Linked DNA regions of Homo sapiens. The protein of the gene in region 2 interacts with the protein of the main gene of each other region in a biochemical or structural test. Each region holds a gene or a part of one and is shown on either strand. Other genes may lie near its edges.

Region 1 (4,251 bases), on a different chromosome or scaffold from region 2:
GGCCTAAACTTTTTCTATAAGGGGCAAGATAGTAAATATTTTAGGCTTTGAAGGCAAAACGGCAAAATTAAGCAATTGTTATCAGCAAAGGGCTAATAGACTTTTTTACATCTTACATTTTAAGAAGTGTAAAAACCCATGCTCAGCTCACAGACCATTTAAAAATAGGCAGTAGTCCAGACTCGGTCCATGGCCAATAGTTTGCCAACCCTTGTCCCAGCTGATAGTGACAGTGGGCCATGAACTACAGTGTGATCCACTGAACTCCCTAGGCCTAAGGTCTTCATTGTAAAAAGCGAAGAGAGGGAGGGAGGCAGCCAGCTGCCCTACACTCTGCTGCTCACTGCCACCCCCACACCTGATTGCCAGGGAGGGCACATTCTAGGACAGTAGACAGTAGACACACACCAGGGCCCTGGGAGCCACGTTCCTAAGGGCCTCTTGCTTTAAAGGACAAATGCATCCTTTCCACAAGGGCTGTCTACCAGGGGATGTCTGACATCTCCTATCACTCAACTCCAGCCCTGGACTAGCATCTTGCTCCATAAGGATTATACAAGACTTGTTCATGAACACAGGACTGAGGCCAGAAATGCCGAAGTTCTGCAGAAACCGACAGCTCTTGGTCACTACCAAGCAGCCTGTAAGAACCTAAAAACAAATGGCAAGCAAGGCACTCAGCAGAGATTGCTTCTTGCCTACCCAATAGCTATCCCTCCATTCTTCCTCAGTAACTGAACCTCTTACTGAGGCCAGCAATGCACCCAGCTAAAACATGCCTTTTCTTTTTAATTATTTTTTGAGACAGGATCTTGCTCTGTCACCCAGGCTGGAGTACGGTGGCGTGATCTTGGCTCACTGCACCTCCGCCTCCTGGGTTCAAGGGATTCTCCTGCCTCAGCCTCCCAAGTAGCTGGGATTACAGGTGCATGCCACCACACCTGGCTAATTTTTGTATTTTTAATAGAGACAGGGTTTCACCATGTTGGCCAGGCTGGTCTTGAACTCCTGACCTCAGGTGATCCACCCACCTCAGCCTCCCAAAGTGCTGGGATTAAACGTGTGAGCCACTGTGCCTGGCCAAAACATGCCTTTTTGACCTCTCTTGCACATGCAAGTGGACAATGAGATGCAAGTTGAAGTCACAGGTTAGGGCTTCCAGATAGCTGCTGAAAGAGGCACGCTCAGCTGAGGCACACTTCTGCCTTACCACTCCTTCCTTCCTCCTGCTGCCTGAAACAGGGACATGATGGCTGCAGCTGCATTGACAGGCGGTGACTGGGAGGATGGAAGCCACACCCCATAGATGTGGCTCTGAAGATGGCAGCACCCCCCGACCAAGCCGAACACACACCTTCAGACTTGCGCACAAAAGCAAAGTAAGACTCTCTTTTGTTTAAGTCCCTGTTGTGGAGCTCCTGGATCCACAGCAAGCCCCATCTGGAGAGCCCACTGGAAAATGAGCTCAGCCACTTGCCTTCAAAGAGTGGAATGGAGTCACTGGAAAAGGCATCCAAGGCGAGCAGGTCTTTCCCGTCCTTGGACCCGCTGCGTTTGTGCTTGTGTTTCCTCCGAAAAAAGGACCGGCGTGCAGCCGCTGACAGCGTCTTTGTGGCGCTATTGTCATCTTTGACTTCAGACATGCTGAGCCTCCTGGAGAATTCTTGGTCCATCCTGTGGCACAGGGGACAATGCTGGGCAGGGCCATCGAGACCCTGCTGCCCTGCCCTTCCTGCCCTTCCTGGTGAGAAAAGCAAAGGTGGGCCAGACACTGGGCTCCCCCCACACTCCTTGGCAGGTCTCAAGGCTACATCTCCTCCCACGCCCCTGGGAACCCTCGGTACATGCTGCGGGGGTGACACAAACACCAGCACCAGGGCAAGCTCTCAGAGCAGGCGATTTTTTCTACTACAGCATATTCAGCTCGGTGTCAAAAGGAACTGCTAGGACAGCCTTCAATTGGTGACATGACGAGTTACGCTTCCTGCCATAGAAGGGAAATGATGCAGGGATGCAGGCTGCCTCGAAAACATGCTCAGTGACAGGAGCCAGATGAAAGGCCACACTATGCAATCCCAACCACACAGAAGTCCAGACAGGGAGACCCATGGGTATCAAAAGTAAAGTAGTGGCTGCCTAGGGCTGAGGGCTGGGTGGGAGGACAGTGGGATAAGGGGCTGACAGCTAATGGGTCTGGGGTTTGTTTGAGGTGATGGAAATGCTCTAAAATTAACTGTAGTGGCGGCTGCACACACCTATCAATATGTTGAAAACCACTGAATGGTACACTTTGAGGGAGCGGCAAGGCACGAGTATCTCCATAAATCCATTTTTCTAAAACACGTTATGCCTTCTGACCCATCACTGTGCTCTATACAGCACTGACTCACACTAGGAGCAGCTTTTTAGACCAGCACTTTTGGCAAAATGTAGAGAGCAGAAGCTAAGATAAGAAGCAGAATCCCTCCTCCAGCAGCCCTGGCCCCAGCCCCCTCCCATGGGACAGCTCCATGGCTGGTGGCCCTCGGCGACCCCTGCCCCACCCCACCCCAGGCCCGGAGAACACTTACACATATTTGCTGGGAATCTGCCCGCGCTGGATCTTCTGGGCATTCTCGTCCAGCTGCCAAGCCATCCAGGACCCGAACGTGCCCTGGGGTAAGGTGTCATCCACGTAGAGGATGTCGTCCTTCTTAAAGCTCAACTCTTGCTCCACATCTGCCAGCCGGTCGTACAGGGCCCTGGACCACAGCACAGAAGGAACACGATCAGGCGGCTCTGGCCACCAAGGACGAACCAGGTGCCTTCTGTGGCCAGGCCCCTAAGGCTGCCATTCTGCTTTGGGCTGTCTCCAAACTTGATCAGGAATCGCCGAGGGTGGTGATTCTCAAAGTGGGGAGCCCTGTGTTTTACATAAAGGGGCAAAGACTGCCTTTGCTCCCCTAACACTGAGGGCGCATCCCCATCAAAGAACTCACCAAGATCTGAGGCCATAACTTCCCTTTCCAGGTGGCCTTTCCCAGTTGCCTCCCTCCTCGAAGCCCAGGCCCGGCCCCTGGTTCCTACAGACTGGAATCTCTCTAGGATGGAAATATGTCATCTTCTACCCTAGAGACAGGGAGTTGTACCGCATCAGTGTTCTCATGCTTTCTGTGATCTTGGATCTTAGGAAATGTGAAGAAAGCTCTGAGCTCCTCCTAGAAAGCCTGCTGCCATCCCTAAATGCCCACAGCATTTCATACAGTAGTAAGGGCACTGAAGATGCCTGGAAGTCCACACACACTGCAGAGGGATCTGCAAACCTGGCTTGGGGGACACCAGAAAAAGAGGAGCACAGCACACAGGAAAACGGGGCTTGACTGCCTCCAAATTCTCTAGGTCTTAAGCCCTAAAGAGGGGGCCCAGCTGGTTCTTTAAGCCCTAAAGGGTTGTTCTAAGTCACAATCATCTCAACATAAATAAGCGTGCAGATTGAGTGTCAAGGAATGATGATCATGGCCCCAGCCTTGGGGGGCAAGAAACAGAGAGCCATTCACCAGGAAAAGAGTCTCCAGTGAAAGCCTCTCCTCTGGTTCCAAATCTCCCACCGATTCCCCAGCCACTGGTACCTGATGTAGAAGCTGTCACCAGGCAGGCCCTTGGCCTTCGTGAACTCCTCAGGGCGGTACTGCACCTTCAGGCGGACGCCATCCCTGGGCTTCAGCATCTCCACATAGACTTCCTCCACTGTCTTGTTCCGCACGTCCAGGCTGCCATACTGCCAGGGATGGGGGTGGATGCATCAGAAGGCAGAAGCCAGGGGGCAGCTTGGGCACCCGAGAGGGGCCAGTGCTGACCATACGGCAGAAATTCAACATCCCTCCTTAACTGAGACTCTGGCTACCTCCCCTCTGCAGGAAGGACTGAGTCTTCATGGTCTCCCCAGTCTCCAGGTCCTGTGCATGCTCCCTGGACACCAGGTCCTCTGCCAAGTGGCTGCCCTGCCCTTGACAGCTTATCCAGGAAAAACCCTGTTCTGGTGACTGGCAAGTCTGGGCTTTTCAGAATAGGGACCTTCCTCTTGCTGATGTTGCCTGTGCTTTTATTTATTTATTTTCTGAAACAGGGTCTCCCTCTGTCACACAGACTGAGTGCAGTGGTGCAATCACAGCTCACAGTAGCCTATACCTCTTAGGCTCAAGTGATCCTCCCACCTCAGCCTCCAGAATAGCTGGGACAACAGGCACACTCCACCACACCTGGCTAATTTTT
Region 2 (3,737 bases):
CTAGAGCAAGGAAGAACTGGCTTCCAATTTTAGCCCTGCCACTGACTAGCCTTGTGACCCTGAGAACATTTCCAAATTCCTGACTTGTTATCTGTATGCCTAACACCTACTATATAGTAATTGTGAGGATCATACGTAAAGTGTCTTTAGCCAACTAGGTACTCAGTAAATGGTAGACAGTATTGCTATCATTTCTGTGAAAGGTGTGACACCCTGCCTTTCATATGAGTGACTGTCATGCACAGGCCACTGGATGTTTCTCAGTTCAAAGAGTTAATAGAAGGCAAGTCCCAACTAGAAATCTTTTCATACTTTATCATTTCTTTCTCATCTTAGATGCTTCCTTACCCTACCCTCTTTTATCTCAAAATAACTCATTTCTTAAGCAGAAGTTTAATTAAATTTAGCAGCTCTACTTAAATTGAAGTGTTTCTATTTCTCCCAAACACACACACACACGCACAGAGAGAGAGAGAGAGAGAGAGAGAGAGAGAGAGAACTTAAAATCAGCAGACTATTTATTACATAGTCCAGATTGTCTACTCTAGAATATAGGTTATGAATAGCTGTGCCACCAGAACAGAGAATTCATAGACTTCAATGGATATTAAATAAAACATGGAGTAATTGAAAGGCTAGAAGTAATGTGATACTAACATAACCAATAGGCAAAAGACTGCTGAGGTGATAGCTATTTAGAATATAAGATATAAAGTGAGAAGTAATATGAAAAAAACTACAGGAGGGAAGTCCTTTTCCCAACCCTCAGTTTTGGATGTTAGACATTTGTAGAAAAAAAATTACAAAGCTGTAGGATTCGGAGAGTTCTAGACTTGCCATTAATGTTCAGGCAGAACAAAAGCTGAATTGGGCAAAAAACACGACATCCCCACCCATTTTGTTTAGACTGTCTATAAAAATGACTTTATTATGATCTTTGCAGCACCCATCTCAGACCACATCTTTCCATGGTTCTCATGAACCTTAACCCCTCCTATTAAATCTTATACTTCCCGCTTTATTGTCACTATAGATGTGAGAAACAGCTGATGGTCATCTTTGTTTACAAGCCATTACAGGTTTGAACAAATTCAAAATTGCCTATTATTAAGCCTCCGCAGGAGCTACTGGGCATAAGCAAACCTAAGATTTTATAACCCAGCAATTATCCTATAGAAAATAGTCCAGATTATTATATTCTGCCACACCTTTATTCATACTTGACTCCAAAAAGTTCTCAATTATTCACAGGGATAATCTAGAAAATAAATATTAGTTTTGCTTTCAAAGACATTACTGGAATGAGCAGGAACCTGCATCTTTGTTATATTAATTAACTTATTATTTAGTTTTCCTGTCTGCTTAGAAATTGGCTGTTTAGGTTGAAAAATGATTTAAGAAGCATAAACTATAACACAACAATTTAAATAAAGGTCACTATTGCTGTGAAATGGGATGTCAGTTTTGCAATTCTTCTGCACTTTCCCACCAAGCTGGGATCTGGGTGAGTCTAGAGATATTTGTGAAATAAGCTAATTTGAAAGGACACCACAATCCGTCAAAAGCGACTTTCTTCCTCTTCCACAGCACGATGAAGGCCAGGGATAAATTTCAAGAGTTGCTTTCGGACACTTCCCTTTCTGCTCTTCCGGGGCAGGGTCCCAAACATGCTTGATAAGTTGCCCTCCCACAAGGGAGACATGGATCCGCTGCTGGTGTTACTGATGCTCCGGTTCCTCCTTGAAGATGACCTCCTCAGAAAATCATCCCCCTCCTTGGGGATAAAGCACTCATCATCTGTACTCGTCTGCCGACTGAAGGCACCCCTGCTGGAGTCCTCAGACACACACGTCTGGTAGCCATCTTCACTGTCCATCGTCATGGAGCTCAGCCAGCTCTTACAGCTGCTCTCACTGGATAATCGATTCCGGTCCACAAGGGCTGGGCCTGGCCCAGGCAGGGGTCCAAACAAAGACAATTCATCCAAGTCCATGTTTTCCAAACTGGGGCAATTAGCTGCATCACCTAGAGCACAAAGTCTACTGTGAAATGGATCTGTTCATTACTCCCTACAAATAAATACACTACATCAAAACTTCTCTTTGAATGACACGAGAAAGAGTAAGGGTGAAAAATACTTTTCACTGAGCTTTGGCGTGCTTGAATAAGTAACTGTTTATGAGACCATTTGATAAACCTTATAGTAGGGTTTCCTGAACTATTGTTCATAGACCAAGGTTCCATGGTCACAAAAATTATAATATTAGAATAAATTTAAACAAGATGTTTCATATGAGAACAGTTCAGCCCAATTGACAGTCTACCAGTGTGGCATCTGAACCTCCAAAATGATCATTTCTTAAATTTAAATAACCCTGAAACCTTTTATTAAAATTCTCACAGAAATGGGGTTCCATAGAATACACTTGGGGAAATACTATCATGATTTTCTCCACTTAGTTTCTCTGATTCTTAGGTACTGTCTTTTAAAAATAATTCTAAAATTATTATAAAACCATTTGAAGTAAATAGAAAACAGTTATGGAACAGGTAATTCAAAAGTGTTTCTTAGAGAAAGGATTTGTGAAATCAAATGTATCTTCCAACCTCAATATTCCCAGTTTCGTTTTGGAATACTTAAATTCTCTGGAATGATACTGTACCCAGAAATCATCCTTGTCCTCAAGTAAGTAATAATTTATTTGAAGAAATTGAATTTTATCTGCTTGGCTAAATTTTTTTCATTGATCCTTAACAACGTACATCTGGCTCTTCAAACTCTAATGTTAATCACATACCAATATGACCCTCCCTGCTTCCACACTAACTGAGTTGGTTGGTATCTTGTGTGTGTGTGTGTGTGAGAGAGAGAGAGAGAGAGAGAGAGAACTTGTAATACCAGCCTTGGAAAAACGTAATCAGTAAGTGACTATGCTTCAGAAAAAATAATAGAATACTGTACACTCTAAAATGGTTTTATTTTGTACTGATTATCTCCACTGCTGCTGTCTTTTGTCCTCGGTTGACAATATAAAAAGAAACTGTTCTTTCAGATGATTTGCAAGGTTGAGTACAGCCAGCCCCATGGTGACTAGTCATAATGCTTTCCTTTTTGCTAATACAACCTACTTCATTTCATCTTGCAATAAGTGATGAATTTCTTTTGATTGGAGAGCAATTGCCTTATAGAATCACATGCCCTGGATGTTTACTATACATCTAGAAAAAGCAGAACTCCTTCAATTGCTCAAAAAATATGTACAACAATGACTTTATGAGGATCCTGACCTAACAATGTTGTCTATACAAGGCTGTTTCTATAGAACAGCAAGAATTTATATTCACTGGGCCATTCAGGATGCTCCAGAAGTGGAAATGAGGCTAAAAAGCCCTCATGTCTAAAGAAAGCAAGGAGGTGGCTGAATTTACAAGGCCATAAAGAAGTTTTTGTATTAAATATTTCTGCCTCTCTAACAAACTTCACTACCCAAAAGAACTATTATGAATTTTTTAAAAATATTAAATGAAGACATAAAAAAGAGAAGTAACTTGTACATAAGTTTCAAACACTTCAATTTAAAAAAAAAAAAACAGAAGTTCATACCAGAACTCTAAGCCATAAATTAGTGACTAGTTAAGGATTAAATTGTTATCTTTTTTGGTAAACAAATTGATTATCACTTTTAACAGATATTCTAGGTTACAGACTTAAGCTTGGTGCTATTTAAAGAAGAGAT
Region 3 (2,944 bases), on a different chromosome or scaffold from region 2:
ATTAAAAATAAAATAAAAAGACGTAAGTCACTAAGTCCAGCCCATTTTCAGGATGAGGAAGATTAAGCTTCATCTCTTCAAAGGAGAAGAATCAGACTTTATGGATATAAAACTACCACAGAAGTGATGTTAATGTCTCATTTGAATAATTGATTTGAAATTTTTTGCATTTGGTAGAACTCTGTGCTTGCATGTGCTTGTTACTTTTTTGTTCATAAGTTTTAAATAATAACTTTACTATTTCCTGATGTAAAAAGTAACAAATATAAACTATAGAACACTTAATACAGATAGGGAAGTTAGAAAAACATGAATCACTCATAATTCTACAATGCAGATATAGCCATTTTTAACATGTTTTTATTTCTTGTGTGTATATATATGCAAATATTAGTGTTCACACACACAAATACATATATATATACACACACATACATATATAATATATATGCCTTAAGTACATAATAAATATTTTGGAACATGTGTATGTGTATATTCTTATTTAGATATATAAGAATTTACCCCTGTAATTAAAATTACTTGGAAACAGAATTTTAATGGCTACATAACAATATACAAATAAATGTTTATTTCCCTCTTTTTTTTTTTTTAGAGACGGAGTCTTGCTCTGTCGTCCAGGCTGGAGAGCAGTGGCGCCATCTCGGCTCATGCAACCTCCGCCTCCCGGGTTCAAGCGATTCTCCTGCCTCAGCCTCCCGAGTAGCTGGCATTATAGGTGCCTGCCATTGCACCCGGCTCATTTTTTGTATTTTTAGTAGAGGCAGGGTTTCACCATGTTGGCCAGGCTGGTCTCGAAATCCCAACCTCAAGTGATCCACCTACCTTGGCCTCCTAAAGTGCTGGGATTACAGGCGTGAGCCACCGTCCATGGCCTATTTCCCTCTTTCATCTTTTAAAATAATTTTCTGAACATTTAGGCTTTTTATTTCCTTTTGTCACAATAAATAACAATATAAAACATATCTTTGCAGAATGTCTTTGTATCTCTGGTTATTTTCATATGATAGGATCTTACAAGTAGAATTATAGGATAAACAGACTACTAAATTGCCTTCAAGAAAAATTATATCTATTTGTATTTTTACCAGAAGTTTGAGTCCCCATCTCATGGTGATTTATTGAGTATTTAATGTTATCATTTCTTAATCTTTGCTAATAGGCCAAAATGTGTATTTATTTATTTATTTTACTTTGTACTTCGGTGGCATGTCAGTTATTATTTTACTGTCTCTCAGCTCCACATTCACTGTTGGTTGCCCGCTCCGTGAAAATAGATATAGACTCTTGAAATGTTTCCTTTGCAGCTTGCATGATGGCATACTTTGTCAGTAGAGGGCGCTGGAGACACACTGCAAGAGGAAGGGGTCTTTCCTGATTCCTCCAGGCTGACAGGCCAGGCTACTGGAGAGCAGGCTTTTTTCCTTCACTACTTTGCCTGGAGTGGTTTCTGCAGTGCTGGTTGCCTGTAGGGTGCAGCTTTCTCCAGCATTTCTCCACTTGCTTCTCTAGCTTTTGCTTTGGGCAGTGGTGGTATAACCTGGAGCCACAGTGCAAGCCGGTCCTGAAGCTCCAATTGCTGCTCTCCATTTCTTCTCTTCAGCTGGGTGCACACTCATACAGAGGACCCTGCTGGGCTGGCCAACTACTGAGCCACTTGCCTGAGCTTTGTCTTGTGCAGTCTCGTCACACAAAGTTATGCTAGGTTCCTGCAAAGTAGGTCCCTCCGGCTCCTAATCCCAACAGTGCCTCGAACAGAACCCGTGACTCCTTCTTTGTGCTTACCCTTTGGCAAAGCCCCAAGTCCCTCTGCATATCTGCCCACCTGCCTCAGCTGGTCCACACCTAGGGGGTTGGCTGTACCAGCTTGTCCAGTATCTGTGGTCCTGCTCTGGCCTGGGCAAGCCAGCAAACTTCTCTCCAGTGGGCTGCAACCACACCTTCTCCAGTGAATTCTGAAACCCTCATTCCTGCCTTTCCTTGTTAGGATTCTTTCCCTCAGCCTTAGGGTACCTTCTCTTTTCATCTTTATTATTATTCTCCTATCATAGCTTAATTATTATTTATATTAAACTTTCCCTGTTTAAATTACTACCTTGTTTCTGTCTTCTGATTGATACAGACTAACACAGTTGTTCACTGTTAAGATACGACTTTTTTCATATACTTAGTGGCCATTTGCATTCTCTCTTCTGTGATTTTTCTTTTCATATCTACCTTTTTTTTCTATGTAAGACTTGGTTCTTCTCTTATACATTTCAGTCTATTGAAGACTAACCTTTTGTCATGTTCATGGCAGGTACATGACACTAGTTTTTTATAAGTATGTTGAATTTTAACTATTACATTTGCCTCATTTAAGTGAGATGAGACTATTTTCTTATTAATATTGACAGGTGAAAGAATAGCGATGCAAGCCTCTGGTTTACTCAGTAAGAGAGACTTCTTAGGCTTGAAAAGGCCATAGCACACTTTCACCTTCAACCAGTTTAGGTTTGGTAATACTGAGAAGTAATGCCTTTGTCTTAAAAATGTTTCATATTTTAATATTGTTAATCTTCCAGTTGGGTTTACTGCATATAATCTCATTCCTTAGTACATGTAATATGATCAATTTACTACAATGCTTATGAGGAATGCAAATGGAATTAGTTTACAGAATGAAAGAATGTTGCATATAATTCCATTTTAATACAGAATTTATAAATAAAATCATAGTTTATACTTATAGCATTTCTTCATTTTTAGTGTTTTTTTTTCAAGTGGGTTAAACAGATCTGTGAGTACCTTGAGAGTTGTCATGTAGAATAAGATGCTAAGAGGGCAGAGTTTGGGATTCCCTATGTAACTTCAGCTACAACAGCCTTGCTTTATCCATTGTATTCATTCAGCAACAAATAGGTATTTGTGGGCCAAGTCTTACTTT
Region 4 (4,251 bases), on a different chromosome or scaffold from region 2:
AGTCTAGCTCTGTCGCCCAGGCTGGAGTGCAGTGGCACAATCTTGGCTCACTGCAAGCTCCACCTCCCAGGTTCACGCCATTCTCCCGCCTCAGCCTCCCGAGTAGCTGGGACTACAGGCGCCCGCCACCACAGCCGGCTAATTTTTTGTATTTTTAGTAGAGACGGGGTTTCGCTGTGTTAGCCAGGATGGTCTCGATCTCCTGACCTCGTGATCCGCCTGCCTCTGCCTCCCAAAAGTGCTGGGATTACAGGCGTGAGCCACCGCGCCCGGCAAGTTTTTTTGTAGATATGGGATGGCACTATGTTTCCCAGGCTAATCTTGAACTCCTGGGCTCAAACGATTCTCCCGCCTCAGCCTCCCAAAGTGCTGGGATTACAGGGGTGAGCCACCGTGCCCAGTGATGTATTTATATAAAATGGCAAGCACTTGTTGGTGACTGGAACTTAGGAACAGTGGGGCTGGCTGCTTCCCTGGGGTCTGAACCTATTACTGGATAACTCGGGGCAAGAACCCAGTGGACAGTGGGGCCTCATGGGATGGGGAAAGGAGAGCCAGTGGCTTACGGACCTCGTAGAGGTGCCCCTTGGCCTTTCTGGGGGTCTCGTCCTATCTGCTGAAGAATGCCCGTCTTGTTCTACTGTAATGGAAACTGGACATGTCCATCAGTAAGGGAGTGATTAAAGAATGATATTTGGCTGCTTTGCAGTGGCAAAGTGAAATCCACAATGGTGTACTGAATGGGAGTATCCCCACAGTACAACACTATTCATGTAGTGGAGGGGTGGTTGTAGAAAATAAACATAGCATGGGCTGGGTGCAGTGGCTCACGTTTGTAATCCTAGCACTTTGGGAGGCCAAGGCAGGCGGATCACGAGGTCAAGAGTTCAAGACCATCCTGGCCAACATGGTGAAACCCCATCTATACTAAAAATACAAAATTAGCTGGGCATGGTGGCGCACGCCTGTAGTCCCAGCTCCTCAGGAGGCTGAGGCAGGAGAATCACATGCACCCGGGAGGCGGAGGTTGCAGTGAGCCGAGATCATGCCACTGCACTCCAGCCTGGCGACAGCAAGACTCCATTTCAAAATAAAAGAAAAATAAAATAAACATAGCATTGGCCCATTCATTTGTTTATTGTATTTTCAAGTCAGGGTCTTGCTCAGTTGTCCAGCCTGGAGTGTACTGGTGCTGTCCTCCCACGTCAGCCTCCCGAGTAGTTGAGACCACAGGCGTGAGCCACCATGCACAGCTAATTTATTTGCTTATTTGTGTAGAGATAGGGTCTCTCCATATTGCCCAGACTGGTCTTGAACTCCTGGCCACAAGTGACCCTCCTGCCTCGGCCTCCCAAAGTGCTGGGATTACAGACATGAGCCCATTTCGATGTTGTTTTAAACTCTGGCTGGGCAAGCATGCTTTAATCCCAGTGCTTTGGGAGAATCCCATGAGCCCAGTAGGTCGAGGCTGCAGTGAGCTATGATTGAGCCACTGCTCTACAGCCTGGGCAAGAGAGTGAGTCCCGAGTCTGTGTTTCCAAATACACAGCAAGATGCGGGGGCCAGGTGCTCACTCCTGTGATCCCAGCACTTTGGGAGGCTGAAGTGGGAGGACCTCTTCAGCCAGGACTTCGAGAGCAGCCTGGGCAACATGAGGAACCCCCGTCTCTACAAAAAATTAGCAGGACATGGTGGCGCGCCTGTACTCCCAGCTACTTGGGAAGCTGAGGTGGGAGGACTGCCTGAACCAAGGAGGTGGAGGCTGCAGTGAGCCAAGATCACAGCACTATGCTGCAGTCTGGGCGACCCCTGCCTGAAAGAAAGAAAGAGAGAGATGAAGAAAGATCTGGAACAATATAAGTCACACTTGAGGGGGGAATGGTGGAAGTGATGCGGCGTCCAGGTTATTTATCCTCATTTGAATTTTTTATAAGAAAAATGTGTTTGCCGGGTGCGGTGGCTCAAGCCTGTAATCCCAGCACTTTGGGAGGCCGAGGCGGGCGGATCACGAGGTCAGGAGATCGAGACCATCCTGGCTAACACCAGTAGTGAAACCCCATCTCTACTAAAAATACAAAAAATTAGCCGAGTGTGGTGGCGGGCACCTGTAGTCCCAGCTACTCAGGAGGCTGAGGCAGGAGAATGGCGTGAACCCGGGAGGCGGAGCTTGCAGTGAGCCGAGATGGTGCCACTGCACCCCCGCCTGGGCAACAGAGCGAGACTCCGCCTCAGGAAAAAAAAAAAAAGAAAGAAAAATGTGTTCACCTACTACCTACGTAACAAAATTACAGTTACAAGACCATTTTAAACATCACACACACACACACACACACACACACACACACACACACACACACACACGGTAGACGTGTATGGTCATGCACAGAGTGAGATTTGGGGTCAGCAGTACACAGCTGCAATACCCCCTGCACCACATCCTGTCTCTGTGACTCAGACAAATTGCTTACCCTGCCAGACTTTGGTCTTTATAGCTGGAGATCAGCCCTTCTCAACCAGGGGCAGTTCTCCCTCCCAGGAGACACCTGGCACTGTCTGGGGATGTGTGTGGTTGTCACAACTGGGGGATGCTCCTGGCGTGGAGTGGATGGAGGCCAGGGACGCTACTCAGCGCCCTGCAGTGCCCAGGTCGGCCCCACCCCAGAGAGTGACCTGGCCCCGATGTCACAGTGGAGAAAGGCGGCTGCAGAGAGAGCGATGCTCCTGTGAGGCGTCTTCCACCAGCTCCTGAGGCTGCAGCACAGCGCTCCGCCCGCCCTCATCTCCGGGGAGAGGCTCTTTGAATTTTCTCACTAAACAAACATTGATTGCGGCCCCAGGAGAAACGAAGACGGAAGGAGCTGTGCTGGGGAGCAGGGGTTTTAGGGTTGCGTTTGGTGCGTCTGTTTGGTTTTCGCCACCCTGCCTCTTTCGAGTCGTTGGTCTCTTTCTGGTTTTTGTTTTTTTGAGACAGGGTCTTGCTCTGTCACCCAGGCTGGAGTGCAGTGGTGTGATCTCGGCTCACTGCAACCTTGACCTCCCAGGTTCAAGGGATCCTCCCACCTCAGCCTTCTGAGTAGCTGGGACTACAGGCGTGCACCACCACGCCCGGCTGATTTTGGTATGGGGTCTCACTGTGTGGCTCGGGATGGTCTCAAACTCCTCAGCTCAAGCATTCTTTTTGCTTTGGCCTCCCAAAGTGGTAGGATTATAGGTGTGCGCCACCACGTGCGGCTTTTTTTTTTTTTTTTTTTAATTGAGGAGTCTTGCTCTCTCGCCCAGGCGAGAGAGAAGTGGCACGATCTCGACTCACAGCAACCTCTGCCTCCCAGGTTCAAGTGATCTTCCTGCCTCAGCCTCCCGAGTAGCTGAGATTACAGGCATCCACCACCACGCCCAGCTAATTTTTTTTATTTTTAGTGGAGATGGGGTTTTACCATATTGGCCAGGCTGGTCTCAAACTCCTGACCTCAAGTGATCCGCCTGCCTCAGCCTCCCAAAGTCCTGGCATTACAGGCGTGAGTCACCGCTCCCAGCCCATGTCCGGCCTCATTTTAAGTAATTCTTTTAAGGTAGATTGATAAAAACTGAGAATAGAAGCAGCTTCCACCTGGCCCTGGCTCACTGGAGCTCCCGTCCTGGCACCTCCTCCTGGGCTGTCTGAGCCCTGGCCATACCTGCCCTCTCACCCTGTGTGTCTGCGTCTTCAGCCTGGAGCTGGTGGATGGAGTCACGTGTATGCTTTAGAGGTCTCAAAGCGTGTTGGGTTTTCTAGAACTGCCTTCGGCCTTTCTCTCCAAGCCTAGCTGGGCAGAAGTGGCCAGAGAGCGGCAACCCGGGCACCCCTGAGTCCCAGGATTTCTCCCCCGGCTCCTCCCACCCATGTGAATGAAAGCCATCCCAGGGAAGGCTGGGCTTTTGCAGGAGTCCTGGAGCAGCATGGTGGGGAAATCCAGGCTCCCCAGCCAGCCTCTCCAGGCTCCTCCAGCCCGCCCTCTCTAGCCTCAGTTCCACTTTCCTCTCTGCTGAGCACAGAAGAGACGCACGCCAGACGGTGGCAGTGGGAACTTGGCCTGTCACCCCTGCTGTCCTGGGGGTGGCCTGGCAGGTGTGTCCGGAGCCTCTGCCTCTGAAGAGGCACCTTGGGTGGCTCCCAGTGCCTGGGGTTTTGGCATTTGGGGGTTTTGGTCCCCAGGTTTGTTGCCAGGCAGCCTTGGGCAAGACATGGAATTTCTGTTTCATCATTTATGACAT
Region 5 (4,946 bases), on a different chromosome or scaffold from region 2:
TCTTCATTCATACTAGTTAGCATCATTAATTTTTTTGTTTTGATGATTCGATTAGTGAAAAATGGCTCCTCCATGTTCGTTTTGCTCTTCATTTTATTAATTTGGCATTAATGTTATTTGGTATAAATTTTTATACAGTTATTTCATGTGATTTGTTTTCTCAATTAGATTATAAATTCCTTACAGATAAAAATTTGGTCTAATGCTTCCATCTCCCCTACAGAGGCTTTCACAATGTAAAGACTATATGCCCTTAATAGCTATTTGGCAACAGATTCATTTACCATGAGGTGAGCCCTTTAAATTATTGAGTTTGAAATGTTCCCTTTTAAGGTTAGCCAGATATGAAACTAACTGCTCTCTTTCTACCACTTAGTCTTCTCTTCTGTAGGTGTGACGTGAGGCCTGGCTAGACAAAGGGATGTCCAAAGAGGAGGGACAGGACAACTATTTCATGCAGGAACTATTAGGAACAAGGCACTTTTAGTTTGAATGATATATTTGTGTAACTTAGGCACTTTACTTCCATCTTTTGAGAAAATGTCATAATAGGCTGATTGTGTTAAATCAAAACTTTATCCCTATCTGTTGTAAAATGATGCAGTAAAGAGACAAAACAATGACATATATGAAGAAAAGTCTCCTCTGTGATGTGTGCAATTGTGTATCTCATCATCAGTATGCCTGCATTTAGTAGCTCTGTAGAAGCACCATGATGTGTCATACCCCCTGCCAGGTGATGGGGGTCCGCTGAAGGAAATGTTGAGTCCATCAGAGAAGTCAGCCATGCAGGTGGACAATTATATTATAAAGTGATGGATGCAATCGTATAAGTATTATATGGGTGTGGTTGAACACAGAGAAGCTAGCAACAAACACTATTTGGTTCTTGAAAGAATAGCAGGAGTTTTCCAATCATGGATAAGGGATGGAAAGATAAGGGAAGGTGACAATTTCAGAAAGAGAGAAGAGCATGTACAAGATTAGAAAACTAGGGAAGGAGGCCAGGAGAAGTTAGCAAGGTTGGGGTTGCGTGTTGAACAACAAGTCTAGAGAGGTGAACTTAGAATAGGTTGGTAAGGTTGTTGTATGCTAAATTAATAAGTTTGGATTTCATTTTTTAGATAATAGAAGCAATATAGAGATTTATTTGTTCAGGAAGTCAGTGTTGTTGGTAGAATGGAGTACAAGCTGGAGACTGACTGAGAACTGGCAGCCGAGTAAGTAGGCCATTGGAATGGTTAAAAAGAAGAAAGCTGCATTTTTTCAGCTAGGGTAGTAGCAATTCAGACAGAAGACCTTTCTTATATATAACCTCTGAAATTTAGTGACAGTTGGAATTTGATGGCAGCTGTAAGTGGAGGGCAACAAAGAAATAACTTTTAGTAAAAAAATGAATGGATGTAGAGTTGACTTAAGTCTTTTGTTTGCCAGATTCCAAAGTTGGGATTTCCATCCTGTCTGATGACTGACCTCAGAATTTAGACTGATAGAAATTACCATGTTAAACAAGAAGTCAACAAATGCTACTGGTGTGGCCTGTTACCAAGGTAAGCAGAGTAAGTTAGTCTGGGATTTGCTTAAATGTCTTCTTATCAGAAAACTTTTTCTCGGTACCAAGTAGCAGCCTCATCACCATCCATTCCATCCTGTCCCCCTACCCAGCTTTATTTTTCCATCCTAACTCATTGCCACATGACATCATATCTATTTCCTCTTTTATTTTCTCTCTCCCTGCACCAAAAAGTCAACTTTAGCAGGAACAGACGACTTTCTTCTCTATTGCATTTCCAGACCCAGAATAATGTCTGGTACAGAGTAGTCAATAAGAAATATTTGTTGAATGTTGAGTGATTATTTGCCATGCAGTGACCTAGTTTTTATTCCACAGAACTAAAGCTGTGAAGTTTCCAGGTTTGACTTAAACTCCAATGGATTCTCTGAATGGTAATTTACCACCTGCCTGAGATTGTGTGATATGTTGAGTACCTGATATCTATCCATCTCTTTCTCATCTGTCCCCCTACCAATACTCATTTCAGCTGCACTTCTCATTATTGGTGAACAGCATGCTATATTCCCAAGTTGCTCAGATCAGAAACTTGGAGCTAATTTTTGACCCCCATCACATTTGTACCTTTATTTAGTTGCCTTACAGCTTTTCACTTGTTCTCTCCTGAATTGGCACTTTATTGCTTAAACCATCATCCTGAGATTTTCTGATCTCTCTCTATTTAATTCCTCACTGTGGTTGTCCATCCTGTATTGCAGAATAGCATTTCTCAAATGTTGTTTTCATGATATTTTCAGAGACTTCTTGTTGCTTAAGAAGAATAACTTGAACTTTTCAGTTTAAAATTCTAGTCTGTTCTTCAAGTTGCTCTCTATTTCTTATTAAACTATCTTGATATTTTCCCAGCATTTCTCACAATCGGTCCCAAACTTTTGCAGATATATATTAGTATATATGTAAAGATGCACACTATAGTGTCTAATTTACTCATTTCTAAAGCATATAATCATAGTTAAAAATATAGAAATCATGCCATCATATGCAATCTTAATTACTATATGACTAATTAAAAGACCACCTTTGGATAAAAACATTTCTCAATTATTTTACATGAACTTCAAAAACCTTTTTTAGCACATTTCATCTTAGTTGTGAAGCAAATACATTTCACATTTCTGAGGGAATTTGTCATGAATTTAGGCTTGAGGTAAAAAGGTTTTGGGAAAGGAGGGCATTCTAAGGAGTAAGATAGATATGTAAAGGAGTAATTATTATAAAATATAAATGCAATGATATAGGCACAAAACATTCTCTAACACACACACACACACACACAGACTTACTAGCATTCTTCAAATAGTACAAAGAATGAAATACATTGAACCCACATTCTTACTTCATTTATCACATTTTATGCTAAGAGCAGAGTGAAAATAATATAAACTAAAAATTCTAACAAAAATCTACTTAATTAAGTCACAAAACAATCCAGTCAGCAGAGGACACTCACCTAGAAAATGTAGAAACAAGCAAATGTACACCAGTTTGTTTCTTCCTAAATAGACATCAGTGAGCCATCTGACAAACACAGGGGTAAGTATTGAAGTTCCAATAAAACACAAGTTTAAGATGGCTGCTTGGCAATTGTGATAGCCAAGCTTGATAGTGCAAAAGGGGATCATGTTGCAGACGACTTCAAAGAACGTGAACCTCTCACACAGCTCCACCAGAAGCAAGCAGATTCCAACCTGAATTTTTTTCACAGAGTGTGAGGAACACAAATCGCCAATATGTCTTACAGTTTTCTCCTTCTCAATGCTGTGATATAAGTGTACTTTCTCATCAGTTATGGTAAAGCCTGTAACAGACATGACTACCCTCCTTGAACAAAACTTATGTTAGTGGTTTGAACTTGGTGATATTTTGAGCCCCATCCCTCTGATGAAAAAAATAAGAACGTTGCTTTGAATTTCACATCTCCATGCTAGAATTTCATAAGGTTTGTTTTTTGCACATGGACGTTGTTCCTTTTGATGATCCAAGAGCATGAGTATTTAAATGTTCACAGTAGCTCAGTGTACCCAAATCTGATTTGTTTGCTTAATTACTTAGCGGCTAAATTAGGATCGTCCTCCAAAATTGTATTGAATTACATGAATCCAGTTGCAAACATGTGGAAACTCATCTGCCTCATACTGATAAAGGTTTAAATATTGAGGCAGAAGAAGCAGGTTTTCGGGAGAATTTGAGCACTAGATCAAGAAATAATTTGAGTCTAATAATTTCTGATACTTTAATTAAACAAGCCAGAACAGTACCAAGAGATAAAGCGCAAAAGGAAATCTGTTTTGAAGGGCACGATATCTTATCATTATTACATTTCTTGTTATTTTTGGTTGGAATTCTGATAAGAAACTTAATTAGGTAACAAAAGTGCTAGTACATTTAGGTAACAAGCAGAGTTTACAAGAAAGTAATTTAAGTGCACTAATGAAAGGAGAAAATATTAAACGAAACCCTGCTTCCTTTTAGTTGACCCCATGCTTGTAGAACAGCCTCTCAGAGGAAATCAGAATCAAAAGGTGCTATTTAACTCCTTTATTATTAATCAGTAGTCAGGGATACAGCAACCAGCCTACACAGGCTTTGGGGAATATTGGATCTGGTATCACCCTGACCCTTCAGCTGGGTGAATGGGTGTTAGCATTCTATTTTGGAAAGCAGGAGGGCCAATTAAGCTAAAAAAGCAGCAGTGAAAGAGAACACCTTAACATTTAGTGGCTTAGCTGCAAGGACATAGGAAGAAAAGGGACCGGAACTATTGGGTCAAAGTCATAATAATTCAACACTTGAGTATAGGAATGTTATTTTCATGCTGTAGTCAAAACCTAAAGACCAATAGGGACTTTTGACTCTGGTTATCATCTTTTGGTTGTGAGAGACTGGGGGCAAAATACTCTGTTTTGACCCCTTCTAATAGCCTCATTGTAATGGTAGCTATTTGTCTCTGCTCAGCATTGCTACTTTGGTAACGATGCCCTAAATTTCCTTTGTGTAAATTGATCATGCAATTTATGATCCAAACTTGGACAGTTTTGTGCAGGTGAAAAGTGATGCTATTTATGGTTACTCCCCAAAAAAAAAAAACAGTTATAAACTGGGACTGTCCAGGGCAACACTCTAACATGTGTTCACCCTACCTTTGGAGAATGACTCCTATCTATTACCTGAGATCATGGTGGGGCTGTTGATCAGCATATGCCTTTTCTTCTAACCAAGTGGGTCAACACCCGGTCTAAGATAGTCCTTTTACTTTTCTCCTGTGGAATTTTAATCTTGAGTGGAATGACTTAAGAATGGGCATGGTGGCAGCTGAGTTATTCAGATGGCAGTGTATTAGTCTGTTTTCATGCTGCTAATAAAGACATATCCG
Region 6 (4,251 bases), on a different chromosome or scaffold from region 2:
CTCTGAGCTCTGTGTCCTCCGGTCCCCTCTGCCTCAGGCAGCTGCATGTTTGCCTCTGACCTCCTCAGGGCTTTAGATTGCTGCCCTGGGGCGGGAAGCTCCGGCCTCCTCCCCCAGCTGGGCCCCCGACAGCTCCTGGCATTCACAGTGAACTGTCTGGGGAATCATCGCTATTTGGGGTAAGCGGCTGGTGGGCGGCTCTCCCAGACCTTTCTCAGAACCTGCAGTCACCCATATGAGCTGCTGACCGGCCTGGCCGGCCTGGGCACGTACGCATGTCGTGGCCCTGCTCATCCAGCAACCGAGGCCTCCCATGACCTGCTGGGTCCTCGTCCACGGGGACTGCAGCTCCATCTGCTGGGGATTCTCAAGGGCAAGCAGCTGTCAGGACACTCTCCCTGCAGGAAGCGTGGCTCCTGCGTGGGTGGCAGGCCCAGTCGGGCCCCGTGAGCAGAGGAGGAGGGACTCCCGCCCACCTCCACGCTGGGTAAGGGAGTCCTCCGAAGGACAGAGCTCTTGGGCTGGGAGGACCTCCTGTGGCGGCGGCCTGGAGACACGGATGTGGTCTCGGGTTGGGTGCTCTGAGGGTCTGCAGGATGGACGAGGCTCCAGCCACCGCCTCACACAGCAGGTGACCATCGTGGGTCCAGCCAAGCCCAGCCTTGGTGGCCGTGGCCGCCCATGGGGGCAGAATCCTGGCAGCCCTGGCCTAGCTCTGACCAAGTGTTAACTCCCTTCATCCTGATCACCCTGGACCAAGGCCTGGGTCATGGGGAGGTGAGGGGCTGGTAGCCCCTTCCAGGGAGTCTGCCAAGAGCCCACAGCTGGCCCCCCCCCGGCCTTGACTGTTCCCTCAGAACGGGGTGGGGGACCTAGTGAAAGTAAACAGTTCATGAACCCAGCTGGGAGCTTGACCAGCAGAGCTGCCTCGGATTTGGGACTCATCCTTGGAAGGGGTGGCCCCAGGCATCGCCCCTCTTTGCTCTTGTGCCTGTCCCCTGAGTCTCCGTCCTTGAGTTTCTTCCCAGGGGCAAGCTGGTGCGGCAGCGGGGGCCCGGGCCTGTGTGGAGGCCCAGTCGTTTTAGCTGGAAGGAGCTTGAAGGGCGAAGGGCACCAACTGGACAGGGCACCAGGACAGGAGGTCCAAATGGGCCCGCCTTTGGGGACAGTCCCTGGGGCTGCCCCTGGACAACAGAGGGACGGCACCAGTGCGTGGGATCGTGGCAGGGGGCTCTGTAAGGAGCCCCAGGCCTCTGACCACTTCCCACCCGCCCTCCCTGCTGTCCAGCATCCCAGGTCCGGGTCCCGCCCCAAGTGCTTGCTGTGTGCTGCCTCTGGGAGCTGAGCTCAGCTCCTGCCACGTCCATGTATGTGTGAGTGTGCATGCAGATGCATGTCTGTGTGTGCACACGTGGGGCCCGACCACCAGGCCCGTGGCACCCTCCTCACCCCTCCTTGCCTTCAGGTTCTTCGAGGACCTGGAGCAGCGGCACAAGGCCCAGGTGCTGGTCGAGGACATCAGTGACATCCTGGAGGAGCACGCTGAGAAGCACTTCCACCCCTACATCGCCTACTGCTCCAACGAGGTCTACCAACAGCGCACGCTGCAGAAGCTGATGTGAGTGGGCGGCCCCGAGGCCCGCAGGGTGGCTCAGGAGCATCCTGCACCCTGGTCTCCCAAAGCACATTCCTGCTCCCAGCCCAGCTTCTGCAGGTCCTGCCTGATTTTGGTACAGGCTGGCCATGCAGAGCCTGGAAGGACAGCCTTGTCCTCTTGCAGAAGCAGCAACGCCGCCTTCCGAGAGGCCCTGAGAGAGATTGAGAGGCGGCCGGCGTGCGGGGGCCTGCCCATGCTCTCCTTCCTGATCCTCCCCATGCAGCGGGTGACCCGGCTGCCCCTCCTGATGGATGTAAGTCCACGGCCTGAGGGTGGGGCCGGGCATACCATCCTGGGGTCCCACGGCCAGAGCCCTGCCCCGGATGGAGCATTACGTGCTTGTGACCTTCTCCTCCAGGCTTGGCCTATGATATTGTAATAGTTACGATCCTAAGATGGCTTTATTAACCAGGATAACTTTGTGGTCGCCGCCACCCACAGAGCTCACTGTGCCGGGAACTGTTCCAGCCCTTGGCGGATTTGTGTTCACTTACTCAATGGTTCATGAGGTTCAGGCACACTGACGAGTTGGAACTGGCATCACCCAGAGCCCTGCTGAGCCTCCTCCCAGCCCCCACCCCACCAGTCCTCCTAGACGTGGTAGCCCTGTCCCTGGCACCTACTCTCCCTGTTCTGTGGACGCAGAGAGGGGCTCAGAGAGGCTCACCAGCATGGGCTGTGTGTGTGGGATGCCAGCCCACAGGGCAGAGGGTATATGAGGGTGAAAGGTGTACACACACACGCACACATGTATATACAGTGTACACGCACTCAGGCACGTATGTGCCCATGTGCACACAATGCATATGTATGGATGCACGCCAGTACACACATGCATGCACACTTGCACACACTGCATTGCACCGATGCATGCACATGTGCACACAATGCACACGTTTGCATACATGCACACACAGGCACTGCACACACATGCACCCGGTGCACACACATACACGTGGATGCACACACATGCATGCACATGGTGCACAGGCATATTCACACATGTGCATGCTGCCCATACACACAGCCCCGCACATGGCAGGACTGAGCTAAGCTTCCTGAGGCTACACATGGCAGGGTTGCCCAAGCCAAACAGAACCTCAAACTCCTGGGGGCCCCAGGGATGTGCAGAAATGGGGCTGCCAGGGGGCCTCCACTGACGATTCCCCAAGTTGGATGGAGATGGCCGAGGATGGGAAGGGAAGGGTTCCAGGCAGGGGTGCTAGCTCCTGTTCCCACTCAACCTGGCCTGACCTGGCAGAGCTCCAGGTGGTGCAGAGGCCGTTCAGGGGCTGTACGTGCTGTGGGGCCCTGCAGGAGCCCCCTGGGGGCAGCTGTTGACCACCCTGCAGCCCCACACGGGGTCTGGCGTTGGTGGGAGCCTCCACACCTGGGATGCCAGAGGGGACTTTCTGTCCCATGTCTGTTGTCCATCCAGACGCTCTGCCTCAAGACCCAGGGCCACTCCGAAAGGTACAAGGCTGCCAGCCGTGCACTGAAGGCCATCAGCAAGGTAAGATGGGGCCTGGCCCCAGCCCTACCCGAGTCCTGTACCCCGACCCTGTCCCCACCCAACCCCACCCTACCCGATGGCATAGGGCTGGCTTCCCCTACCTTCCAGGGCAGCGAGTGTTCTCAGATTATCCATCCCAAGCCTTTCACAGCGCTGACAGGGAAACTGAGGCCCAGAGGTTCCCAGATTATCCATCCCAAGCCTTTCACAGCGCTGACAGGGAAACTGAGGCCCAGAGGTTCCCAGATTATCCATCCCAAGCCTTTCACAGCGCTGACAGGGAAACTGAGGCCCAGAGGTTCCCAGATTATCCATCCCAGGCCTTTCACGGCGCTGACAGGGAAACTGAGGCCCAGAGGTTCCCAGATTATCCATCCCAGGCCTTTCACGGCGCTGACAGGGAAACTGAGGCCCAGAGGTTCCCAGATTATCCATCCCAGGCCTTTCACGGCGCTGACAGGGAAACTGAGGCCCAGAGGTTCCCAGATTATCCATCCCAGGCCTTTCACGGCGCTGACAGGGAAACTGAGGCCCAGAGGTTCCCAGATTATCCATCCCAGGCCTTTCACGGCGCTGACAGGGAAACTGAGGCCCAGAGGTTCCCAGATTATCCATCCCAGGCCTTTCACAGCGCTGACAGGGAAACTGAGGCCCAGAGGTTCCCAGATTATCCATCCCAGGCCTTTCACAGCGCTGACAGGGAAACTGAGGCCCAGAGGTTCCCAGATTATCCATCCCAGGCCTTTCACAGCGCTGACAGGGAAACTGAGGCCCAGAGGTTCCCAGATTATCCATCCCAGGCCTTTCACAGCGCTGACAGGGAAACTGAGGCCCAGAGGTTCCCAGATTATCCATCCCAGGCCTTTCACAGCGCTGACAGGGAAACTGAGGCCCAGAGGTTCCCAGATTATCCATCCCAGGCCTTTCACAGCGCTGACAGGGAAACTGAGGCCCAGAGGTTCCCAGATTATCCATCCCAAGCCTTTCACAGTGCTGACAGGGAAACTGAGGCCTAGAGCCAGTGGAGCTCTCACACAGTTGATGAGCCCGTGGCACGGCTGGTCCAGGGCAGGCACTGTGG
Region 7 (4,902 bases), on a different chromosome or scaffold from region 2:
TGGATTCCTCTAGGGAGTGGGAATTGACTAAAGGAAAGGATGAGACAAGGGTCTGGTTTCAAAAAAATTATTATTAGGCTTTTGGATTCATTTTATAAGCATTCATAACTTTAATTTTTTAATTGAAAAAGAAGAGTGAGTGAAAGAGAAAAATTTAAAAACAAAAAATAAGCAAAACAAAGAGCTAATAATGTTAATCAAGACAAAAAACAAAGATATAAATACATAATATTAATGAGATAAAACACAGATATTTAGGAGTATAAAACATAAAAAGATGCATCGAATGTTGAAGTAAGTTTAATATCTTGACTTAATGGATAAGTTTCTAGCAAATATTCATTACCTATATTGATAAAAACCAGAAGAGAAAATAGCCAAGAAAGACATTATCAAAAATACTCTGAAACTATTCCCTAAACAAAGATACTAAGGATAGATGATGCACCAGAAGTGCTTTATCAAGGGATATTCTTTGAGGAAAGATAGCCGATAATGGAAACAGATAATCATTGTCTCCATTAGTTTGACAAAAATAACATTATCTTGGTAACAAAACAGCACAAAGATAGCACAGAAAGGAAAACTTCAGATCAAGCCCATAGATTATAAAAATTCTAAGTAAATGCTAGCAAATCCAAATTAACTCTTGCTCTATGATTAGAATTATTCTAAAAGATGCAACAATTGGTTAATTACAGGAAATTTATTCACCTAAATTACCACATGAATAATTCAAAATAAAAAATAGAATTTCATTACATGAAAAACATCAGTTGATAAAATTCGACATCTATTACTGATTTAAAAAACAAAGTTTAAGAAATGAAGAATATAGAGATTCTTCCTTAACAGTATCTGATACCAACAGCCAACTTCCTATATCTACTGAGTCACTAGGACTACTTTTCTAGAACAGTATTTTGCCAGGACAAGGAAAACAGGGTTTGGGAAATGCAGAGTTATACAATGTTAAATAGGTATCTTTACTACAAAACTATGAGTAAAAATATTGCCAAGCAAGAGATATACAAACCAGAAAGGTTTTAAAATAAGAAACGGATAATTATTAAATTTCTGGCTTAAATTGCAATATTCTTCAAAGGATTAAATTATATAATTCAAATTGGCCTTCTGTTTTTGGGGATTCAGATATCATATTATTTCTCATCAGTCATAATATTAAAGTCAGTGACCAGAAAATACAAATAAATTGTTTAATAATAAAATCTGCTATCATTTATCCTAAATTTATCTTTAAAAGATCCAAAGTGTTACATCTAGAATGCTAATGTCAAAGAGAAAAAATAATTATGTTAAAAACACTACTGAAAAACTTGAGATACTATAGCACATTTTAAGTTATCTAATATATGGAGGTGTTGACACAAAAATCACTGTAACTAAAATTCAAAAGTATAATGAAATATAAATATAGTCATCTCAGTTCACTTTGTGTTAGGGCAAAATAGGATCCAGCTTAAACTATTGGCACTGCATAGCTTTACTGAAGTGTCTTGATGGTTAATGCGCAAATTATTGCAAGTGTAGTATGTTCCAAGGAGGCTACAGTTCATCCCCTGTAAAAAGAGAGGGAAGGAAGCTCAATGACATGAACGGAAAGATCCTTGGGGCCTGCAGGCTCTCTCTCTTCATTTGCAACTGCAGAAGTAGAGCAAGAGTACACAGTTATTCAGAATTATTTGCATTTGGCAAATCCTTAATTGATCTCTGGCCACTTGAATAGATTCTTCCAGGAAAAGACATACGACAGTTTTCATCCAATACCCTGGGTTTGGAGCATAACTTATTCTGGAGGCCAAAGAAAAACAAGCCAAGCAGTTTCTCTTCCTTTGGTTCAAAAACATTGAATAATCAGTCCTCATTAGTTTCAAAATCAGCCCTCCAGATTTTAAATGGAGAGAGCAAGTGGCTTAGGAAGGTTGTAGTTAGATCCCGCAGATGTACTCAACCCCTCTGCTCTGCAACTGACTCGGACTCTGTCCAGCAATCAGTCCCCAAGGACTGCCACAGAGAAAGTCCTAAAGGCAACCACGCTCCTCCCTCTCTTCTCTTGGCCATCTCCTGTGAGGAAAACCTCTGTCCTGGCTTGACTTCTGGACACCAGGATGCCTCCCTTCAGACAAACTAAAAAATAGCCTCACGGCACTTGCTGCAGAGGAGTGTGTGTTGTTTAGAAACTAATTTCTCACCTAATACAAATTATCTGTGTCAGATTCAGATTTAATAAGTACTATTTTTGTGTTGAGTAATGTACGTACTTTTTCTAATCCTTAAAACAACCCAACAAACGTAATATTAGAATTCCATTTTTTAAATTAGATGGCCCAAAGCAATTAAGTGACTTGTCAAAAGCTAAACAATTTATAAGCATGAGACTCAAAATTTGAACTCAAATTTGAGTTTATCTGATTTCTTTAACCAATCTTCTCTCTTATTTCCATCAAACTAATGAGGGGATCATCACCTTTCACTGATATTTTTATGGATAAAACATAAATCGCACAGAAATTAAGGGTTAATCTCCCATAAGAATCTGATGTATTAGTCACAAAATATAAAATGAGAGAACCAAGTCTTACCTGGAGGAAGAGATCAAAGATAGCCAGTTCCTTTCAATGTGCTCAGCAAGAGGATGGACCACACACCACAGACTGAAAGAGGAAACTGAGGTAAACTCCACAGCAATTTTGAACAATTTTGCCAGGTGGGGAGAGTGTGGGTGGACACAAGCAGAGGAGATTAGGGAAAAGAAAAGATGAAGGGCATGGTCTCACCCCTGAGCGATCTCTTCTCTTTCCTCTTTCTTCCTGGCCTCTTTTTTCTGGCAGTCAGCAGAGAATTGGCCACGCTGGCAAGGCCACTGACGTGCATCTCAGCTCCCAGGGCACAGAAAGAGCTGAAGCTTTTGAGCCATTTCTTTGCAATTTGCTGCAAGTTTAAGGCCACACGTGATAAAGCTTTCTTTATGGGAGAGAGTGAATAAAAGAAAAGACCACTTGTGATCTTACTTGCTGATTCCCAGAAAACACAACTCCGCAGGGGGCAGAGGGTAAGGAACAGAAGCCAGAGGAGGGCGGAAGTTTATAACAGAGACCCCTCCTCCTTCCAGAAAGTTTTTAAGCCAACTATTCCTTAGGGACATCACTGGGATCCTTGTGTTTTCTTTGTTTGTGTGTTTTGGTTTTGGTTTGTTTTGTTTTGTCTTTAACGGTTCTTGGGCTAATTTGCTACATGGTTTTCTTTTCCATTGGTGTTCTAGAATCTTTAAGGACCAAGTATCAGGTCACAATCAAAGCTCTGCAGCGCTCTGTACAAAAAGAGTTAATTCTCAGAGACATGATCAGTTGCTCATATTTACAATTTCTATGAGTTTTGAAAACAGAAAAGAAACACGTTGAATTTTTGGCATTCAATTGTTTATTCTGCCTAATTCCAAGGATAAATAAATCCTTGCACTGAGAAAGTCCACAATTCTAATACATTCTTTTTCCAAGAGAAAAACTTTAGAGGATCTTAAGCAGTAGTAGTTTGCATTTATTTTCTACCAATAAATAAATTTGCTACCAGAATTATCCAAGATTCACCCTACTCTTAAGTGGCTGAGACTCTGGGATGGTCACTTAATTTTACTGAGTCTCAACTTCTTCCTTTGTAAAGCAGAATTTTTTTGTTTAAAAAAAAAAAAAACAGATTTATAGGGCTGTTTTAAGGATTAAATTATATAATGTATTCAAAAGCACATTGCAAATGAGCGGAAGGTATCATCATTTTATATATATATATATTTAGTTCACATAATGGTCAGAATAGTTAATATTATTCAAGCACATTTTACTACAAAAGAAAGAAAAGAAAATGCAAGAAAAATGGGTTTATATTAAACCTTGCAATGAAGCAATGGTGTTTTCACACTCTGAAAGGCCAAATATTTTACTTTAACAATCAAACCAGACTTTTCCATCGGAAATAGTGAGCAAACATCCGAATACATTGAGTGTTAGTCTAGACTTCTCAGTGTCTAACAGGTGGCCAGACCACTGTTTTATTCAAGAGGAGACAGTATTTACCAGCCCAAAGGGCATAATTTTCCTCACCAAGAAATGAAATTCTCCCTTGAGAATGTAATTTTGTCTATTCCCAACTGGCTCAGTCTCACTCTCCAACACGATTCCTTTTCTTATTTCCAGAGTCCACAGTTAATGTTACTGTTTTGAATGCACATAATGTTTACACTTATTCAGAGCTTCTTATGTGCAACCTTGCATTGGATTGTAGCCTACTTCAGCCTTTCATTCCCATTTCCAAACTCTAGATGAGGGAGTTAACAAACTTCTATAAAGGGACAAATAAGAAATATTTTAGGTTTTGTAGGACCATGCAATCTCTATCACAACCACTCACCTCTGCCATTCTGGTGGTAAATTAACCACAGACAACATATAAATGAATGCATTTCCTAAGACTGCACTAACAAAGTACTACAAGCTGAGTGACCTAAAACAGAACTTTATTGTCTCACACTTTTGGAGGCCAGAAGTCAAAAATCAAGGTGTCAGCAGAGCCATGCTCCCTCTGAGACCTGTAGGGAAGAATCCTCCTTACCTCTTCCACCTCCTGGTGTTTGCTGACAGCCTGAACTCCTTGTTTTATAGGTGTATCACTCCAACAGCTGCTTCTGTTACCACATGGCCATCTTCTCCCTTTATGTCTCTGTCCTCTGTACTTAAAAAAACGCTAGTCATCTTTGGCTGGGGACCACCCTCATGACCTCATCTTAACTTGATAAGGTCTGCTAAGACTCTCTTTTCAGGAAAGGTGACATTCACAGGTACCGGGGGTTAGGACTTCCTCATATCTTTTTGGGAGACACAATTCAAG

The links.
Region 1: the proteins of CYTIP (region 2) and DLG5 interact in a test that uses a peptide from one of them, tested with the Homo sapiens proteins (one large-scale study listed by IntAct).
Region 3: the proteins of CYTIP (region 2) and RASSF6 interact in a test that uses a peptide from one of them, tested with the Homo sapiens proteins (one large-scale study listed by IntAct).
Region 4: the proteins of CYTIP (region 2) and MAP2K2 interact in a test that uses a peptide from one of them, tested with the Homo sapiens proteins (one large-scale study listed by IntAct).
Region 5: the proteins of CYTIP (region 2) and SLC15A5 interact in a test that uses a peptide from one of them, tested with the Homo sapiens proteins (one large-scale study listed by IntAct).
Region 6: the proteins of CYTIP (region 2) and ARHGEF16 interact in a test that uses a peptide from one of them, tested with the Homo sapiens proteins (one large-scale study listed by IntAct).
Region 7: the proteins of CYTIP (region 2) and SLCO1C1 interact in a test that uses a peptide from one of them, tested with the Homo sapiens proteins (one large-scale study listed by IntAct).

The regions. Positions count from the first base shown.
Region 1 is NC_000010.11:77,804,188-77,808,438, forward strand, and holds part of DLG5 (disks large homolog 5), read right to left. Parts: intron 3,758-4,251; coding exon 3,609-3,757; intron 2,742-3,608; coding exon 2,571-2,741; intron 1,985-2,570; coding exon of another isoform or gene 1,909-1,984; exon of another isoform or gene 1,712-1,908; intron 1,675-1,711; coding exon 1,478-1,674; intron 1-1,477. UniProt on the Homo sapiens protein: Acts as a regulator of the Hippo signaling pathway.
Region 2 is NC_000002.12:157,414,119-157,417,855, forward strand, and holds the end of CYTIP (cytohesin-interacting protein), read right to left. Parts: intron 2,026-3,737; coding exon 1,559-2,025; 3' UTR 501-1,558; downstream 1-500. UniProt on the Homo sapiens protein: By its binding to cytohesin-1 (CYTH1), it modifies activation of ARFs by CYTH1 and its precise function may be to sequester CYTH1 in the cytoplasm.
Region 3 is NC_000004.12:73,572,534-73,575,477, forward strand, and holds part of RASSF6 (ras association domain-containing protein 6), read right to left. Parts: 3' UTR 1-2,944.
Region 4 is NC_000019.10:4,103,266-4,107,516, reverse strand, and holds part of MAP2K2 (dual specificity mitogen-activated protein kinase kinase 2), read left to right. Parts: intron 1-4,251. UniProt on the Homo sapiens protein: Catalyzes the concomitant phosphorylation of a threonine and a tyrosine residue in a Thr-Glu-Tyr sequence located in MAP kinases. Activates the ERK1 and ERK2 MAP kinases.
Region 5 is NC_000012.12:16,274,302-16,279,247, forward strand, and holds the start of SLC15A5 (solute carrier family 15 member 5), read right to left. Parts: upstream 3,385-4,946; coding exon 3,024-3,384; intron 2,225-3,023; exon of another isoform or gene 1,892-2,224; intron 1,551-1,891; exon of another isoform or gene 224-1,550; intron 1-223. UniProt on the Homo sapiens protein: Proton oligopeptide cotransporter.
Region 6 is NC_000001.11:3,471,613-3,475,863, forward strand, and holds part of ARHGEF16 (rho guanine nucleotide exchange factor 16), read left to right. Parts: intron 1-1,465; coding exon 1,466-1,618; intron 1,619-1,780; coding exon 1,781-1,910; intron 1,911-3,095; coding exon 3,096-3,170; intron 3,171-4,251. UniProt on the Homo sapiens protein: Guanyl-nucleotide exchange factor of the RHOG GTPase stimulating the exchange of RHOG-associated GDP for GTP. May play a role in chemotactic cell migration by mediating the activation of RAC1 by EPHA2.
Region 7 is NC_000012.12:20,693,509-20,698,410, reverse strand, and holds the start of SLCO1C1 (solute carrier organic anion transporter family member 1C1), read right to left. Parts: upstream 3,080-4,902; 5' UTR 2,604-3,079; intron 1-2,603. UniProt on the Homo sapiens protein: Mediates the Na(+)-independent high affinity transport of organic anions such as the thyroid hormones L-thyroxine (T4), L-thyroxine sulfate (T4S), and 3,3',5'-triiodo-L-thyronine (reverse T3, rT3) at the plasma membrane.